Linked DNA regions of Homo sapiens: region 1 is linked to region 2. The links come from fine-mapping of genetic effects on gene expression. A gene starts in region 2. The other region holds a variant in brackets. All regions are shown on one strand. Distances are between the middles of the regions.

Region 1 (2,914 bases), 38 kb after region 2:
GCCATTCTCCTGCCTCAGCCTCCTGAGTAGCTGGGACTACAGGCGCCCGCCACCATGCCCGGCTAATTTTTTTGTATTTTTAGTAGAGACGGGGTTTCAGCATGTTAGCCAGGATGGTCTCCATCTCCTGACCTTGTGATCCACCCGCCGCGGCCTCCCAAAGTGCTAGGATTACAGGCTTGAGCCACTGCGCCCGGCCAATCTTTTTGTTATTAAGGTGAAGAATTCTTTTTATATTCTGGGTATAAGTCCCTTATCAAATATATGATTTGCAAATATTTTCTCCCATTTAGTGGGTTGCCTTTTCTTGATGGTGCCCTTTGAAGCATGCAAATATTTACATGCTCAGAAAATATTTGTCAAAGAATGAATGAAAGAAACACTACCTTTTATTGAAAGCCTTGCCTGACTTTACACAACGTTGTGATTTTGTCTCTTGGATACCTAGGGTGTATATATTTTTTCATATTGATTATAATACTCCCCACATTGCTTTGTAATTTATTTGTAGTATTTTCTCCCTCACCCAGTGATACCTTGGGAGGCAGGTGCTGTGTCTACTATGTTCCTAACTGAGTTTCTGGTGTGGGTAATAGGGTAGTATGTGACGGTCACTGAATGTTGCCTGAATGAATGCATGGATTTCTCTGTGGAACTCTGTCAAGTGAGAGGGGATGCAGCTGGTCCAGATTGTTGGTCTTCAATTTTTATGAACCAGCTTAGATTCAGATTGTAGAGTGTGTGCAGAAGGCTGTGATTCTCCAGCTTGCAGTCCATACTTTATCAAGGACTGCTTGGAGGCAGACGAGCTTGAAGAACTCAGCCTCCTTGCATGGGCTTCTTAGTGTGGAGAAGGGGTGGGGAGAGCAGAGTGAATGGCGAAGTGTTCAGTGTGTGAGCAGGTTGTCATTATTAATGTATCGTAATGACCATGGTGTTTATGGGATTTCTTCAATTTTAAAGTGGTCATTACCAAGGTTAATTATCTTCTTAACCTTAGAGGTGTAAAGCTGCTTTTGGCATCTTTGGAAACTTCTTTTGGAGCTACCAGATTAGATGGTCTTAGTATTTATTTATTTATTTGACAGAGTCTCACTCTTTCCTCCAGGCTGGAGTGCAGTGGCATGATCTTGGGTCATTGCAGCCTCGGCTGCTGGGGTTCAAGCAAACATGTCCGGCTAATTTTTGTATTTTTAGTAGAGGCAGGGTTTCACCATGTTGGCCAGGCTGGTCTGGAACTCCTGACCTCAAATGATCC[G/T]CCTGTCTCGGCCTCCCAAAGTACTGGGATTACAGACATGAGCCACCACGCCCGGCCGGTCTTAGTAATACTTTAAGATTTCTTTCAGCTCTAAGATTTCATAACTCAAAACTTTGTCTTCCCAATGAAATCTTTCTTGATTACTTTAGTCCTTAATGATCCCCATCTTCTTAACCTAAGTCATGCAAGACATATTTATGTGAACAGCATGGTATCATTCATTCATTCAGCAAACATTGCATTAGGAACTTGGCTAGATGCTGGAGTGACAAAGATGACCAAGACAGCATTTTTTTTTTAACAGTGTTTACTGAACACATATTTTATGCTATGCCCTGGGGGTAAAGGGTGACTAAGACGTGTAAGGCACTTGCATTCTACAGGCCATTGCTTTTCATGGGTATAGGTTTTCTCTCCCCAGTTAGACTGTAAGCCTTGTTTTTTGTATCTCATTCCCCCAAACATCTAATACGATGAGTAAATAGTTTCTCAAGCAGTACTTGATTGACTTCTTTTTCCTCTTTTTTTGAGGTGGAGTCTCACTCTGTCGCCGAGGCTGGAGTACAGTGGTGAGATCTCAGCTCACTGCAACCTCCGCCTCCTAGGTTCAAGCCATTTTCCTGCCTCAGCCTCCCAAGTAGCTGGGACTATAGGCGTGAGCCACCACGCCTGGCTAATATTTGTATTTTTAGTAGAGATGGGGTTTTGCCATGTTTGCCAGGCTGGTCTTGAACTCCTGACCTGAAGTGATCCTCCTGCCTTGGCCTCCCAAAGTGCTGGGATTACAGGTGTGAGCCACCGTGCCTGGCCAATTGACTTCTTGGGTGGGTTTTTTTTGTTTTTGTTTTTGCTTTTTTTTTGATTGCCAAGAAAAGTTTTGCTTGCCAAGAAAATGTGAGAGGTATTTGGAACTTTGAAATTTATAATCTATACAATACGTACAGGTCTTGGGCAAGTGGCTACTCAGGTGTTACGGTGGAAATAATCTATACCTGTGCCTGATTCTTGATTGGGAAGAAAAATTTGGAAGTAGTTTAGAGAGTGATTCAAAACTTCTCATATTCCCTAGCTCTTTTAATCTATTTCATTTCTGAATAATGAAGTGATGTATTCAAATTTTGCACTCAGAGGACACTGGCGTGTGATTTTGGGACTGCATGCTTAATCAGAACTTGAAAGAGTTTTTGTTTTGTTTGCTTTGCTTTTAAAACCAGGGTTCTGCCCTTCTTAGTAAAGCATATTTTGGGGCAGGGAGGCATACTGATTGGGATTTTTTCCAAATGGTTTTCCTCACATCTTGCCATCGGAACCTCTTAAATAAGGGCTTTCAAGGCCCCCATGCAATTCTGGTAGTTTCAGTATACCTAAGAGAAGACAGGTTATTAATGATTTTCAGATGTGAAATTCATTAAACTATATAGTAAATTAAAGTGCTTTTGGGGAAGGATAATAGTAGGGAGTATTGAAACAGAACATCTAAAACAACTGTCTTCCTTGCAGTGTTAACATGTGATATAAATGTGGTGTTTTTTGCCCTTACTGCTTGCCTTATGTTACCTCCTTTGCTCTGGAACAGTTGTTTTCAGACTTCAGTGGGCATAGGAATCACCTGAGAAATTGGTTGGAGTTGTTGATTTGCTATCTTTTACCTGGGGG
Region 2 (2,914 bases):
AAAATAAGAATGTTAATTTTTTTGTCCCCCCCCCCAATTTCTAAGTTTTGAACAACTGGTACTCTGACGTTTGTAGTTAGCATTAATAATTTCTTTCTTCCTTTTTTCCTCTCAAAAAATGTACGTAGGGTGCATTCAAATACATTAATCCAAGAATATTATCTGGAAATGTACCATTTGGCCGTCTGCATTCACCAAGCATGCAAACACATCTCCAAATATCTCATCACTTGTTCTAGATAGATTTAAGTAGTCTTCTCCATTAACTCTTTCGGGTCCAACTTGCCAATTAAAATCTCGAAACTCCTAGTTTGGAGCTGGGTCTTTCCGAGCTCTGAGCAGTCGGCTGACTGGCGGGTTATTCTGAATGAATAGACTGCAAACTGTGGCGACAGCGTTCCCACCTGCATTAATTAAACGAGCGCTGGCTTCAACGCTACAGGGGTCTGATATTCAAAACAGACGTTTAAGGAAAAGGAGATGAGGTGAGAGAAAATTCGAAGAAGGTTCAGCGGAGAGCGACTGCTGGGGGTTTCAAGGGGCCCATTTACACAAGCAGTGGCACACCGGCACGGGCGGGGGATCTTATTCCTGCCTACGCATCACAGGGTCCCGTCCAGAGTGGGACTCCCCAAACCCTGAGGGGCCACACTAGCTGCAGGGCGGGATCAAGTCTCCGGGGCTCCCCGACCCTTAGACGACCCGAGCCCTTGGAATCCTCCGGTCCAAGACGACCGCCGCCCAAAGGCTCCGCACAGCACGGAAAGCCAGCCCGCTGATCCGCTAGTCGCACACCTCCCGGAATTAAAGAGCTCCTCTCAGGCCCAGCGGCTTCTCACTTCAGCTTGCCCCACTGCCGGGCGGAAGCGGCGGCTGCACCGCCCGAGATCGCGGCTGCATCCGGGTTCCTCAAGCTTCGGCCCAATCCTCGACCTTCTCTCTTCCCACCCTCCCGTTTCTCCGCCCTCCTGCCGCCAATCCCTGATCAGGTCTCAGCCGAACATGCTGTCAGGGGAGTGAAGGCGGATACTGGCCAATGAGGCCTCGCTTCCCGTTTGAAGTCTCCAGTGGGCGGGCGCCGGAGGCGGGCGCTGCTGGCCAGAAGGTTCGGTTGCGCGTGTGCCATGGACTCAGCCGCCCGGTGATATTGACAATAGGAGAGAGAAAGGGGCATTGACTGGGACCCACCGCGGGTAGCGAAAGGTGGCTCTGGCAGCGGCGGCTCCAGCTCCTGCGGCTCCTCCTCCTTATTCTGTCCCCTTCTCTTGCTGCCGCTGCAGATCCAGTCTTCCTCCCTCCCTTCCCCCCCTCCCCACGTCGTCGCCGCCGCCGCCGGGTCCGGGGCAACGAGCTGAGGCGCCGCCCGCCAGGAATGTGAGCGAGGAGCCACCGGCGGAGCCGCAACGGGGTCGGTGCCGATTTGATGGGACGGGCCCGCGGGGGAGGATCGTGAGGCCGCCGCCGCCACCGGAACGCTGAGGTTCGGGTCCGGCCGTGAGGCCTAGAGGCTCCGCCGCCGCGGAACCGGAGGGACCCCGTACCGGACAGCCGTCGCCCCAGGCTCCCCGCAGCTGCCCGGACCTCCCCCTGCACGTCCCGGTCCCGCCGCCCGCCCCCGCTGCGGCCACCTCGCCCGTCTCCCGCCCCTCCAAGCCACAGATCATCTTTGGATTCTTCCCCAGAAGCTTCAAGGTAACTTAGTCCCTCCAGCACCGCGGCTCGCCCGCTTCCCTTCTTCCTCCCGGTCCTCCTGGGGAACCTATGGGGCACCGGCCTTGGGAAGGCCTGGCCGGGCAGGCGAGGGGTGCGGTGGGGTGGGGTGCGGGAGCGGGAGCGCCCGTCCCACTTGTCTGATTTACCTACAAATGCTTCTGATGATACCTCTCATTCACTCTGCCCCCTCCCCCCTTTTTCTCCACCTTCTGGGATTGGAGGCGTTTTCTTGCCCCCCTTTATCCACTGGCGGGGGCGGGGAATAAAGAGGGGTTTGGTGTGAGGAGGATTCTCTAGCAGCTTATCGTCTCCAGGGCTTGGGGTGTGGGTTAGGAGCAAAGGGAGTATGTAAGCATCCCCACAGACAAACCCCTTCCCTGTCTTTCCCTACTTCCCCTTACCCCCTTTGGATTATCCTGAGCCATGGAAATGCCCCATGCCTGCTGATTAGAGGATGATAAAGCTTCGGGAGCCCTGGCCCAGGGCGAAACCTGTTTCCCTGGGCTTTGCACGGACCCGCTGTTACCTTACGTTCAGTTTTGCAGTGCTTCAGGGTTGCGATCCTTGACGTTTATTCTGGGCCTCGGGCATAAGGGGTAAATGATTTTTTTAAAAGCTACCTATATATCGTCTGTAGAGATGAGAGATAAGGAATAAAGAAGAGACGAAAAGAGTGATGGAGGAAGAGGATTTACTGAAATGTTGTAGTGTTAGAGTTAGAGTGAAGTCTAAATAATTCACATACCCGAATGGAAAATCGGCCCCTAAATTTACAACGTACAAATAAGATGTGGAGCTTTTGGCTGATGCAGTCATTTTGATATTTTAAAGTGATCTTAACATCTATAGTCATTCATAGTTTGTGATTCTATTTTGAATCCATCACATTATATTAAGGCTAAATTAGGTAGATTTTTAAAAACTTTTTTTTTTTTAAAGAAAACCAAAGAAGACTTCCAAATTCCAAACGTCAACATCATATGTGTGCATGTGTTTTAAAATGTTTTTGTTATTTTTACATTGTCAAAATCCACGTAATCCAGGTAACTTTTTATTCTCACGTGTTCAGGAAGAAATTCCCTTACTGTTTTATTTAGAAGTTAAAAACCACTTGTCTTGTCTATTGGAATGACAGGTGAGTAATTGCATTTCAGCATTTCCCCCATATGCATTCTTTCTATCCGAGTCTGCCATTAGTCTT

The links. PIP is the estimated chance that this variant, and not a neighbour inherited with it, causes the effect.
Region 1: its variant is the best candidate, but not a certain one, in a credible set for the expression of PPP2R5E in esophagus mucosa (GTEx, PIP 0.86).

The regions. Positions count from the first base shown.
Region 1 is chr14:63,503,454-63,506,367 of GRCh38, reverse strand. The region is part of intron 2 of PPP2R5E (protein phosphatase 2 regulatory subunit B'epsilon); the gene reads left to right. Among named protein-coding and RNA genes, the nearest start is that of PPP2R5E, 38 kb to the left of the region's middle. The variant G/T (reference allele first, on the strand shown) is at 1,259.
Region 2 is chr14:63,541,557-63,544,470 of GRCh38, reverse strand. It overlaps PPP2R5E (protein phosphatase 2 regulatory subunit B'epsilon), which reads left to right and starts at 1,094. Exons shown (of 14, transcript NM_006246.5): 1 at 1,094-1,692. LOC112268140 (loricrin-like) reads right to left here and starts at 1,687. Exons shown (of 1, transcript NR_158218.1): 1 at 1-1,687. RefSeq lists enhancers at 779-988, 51-1,042 and silencers at 1,279-1,418, 1,459-1,598.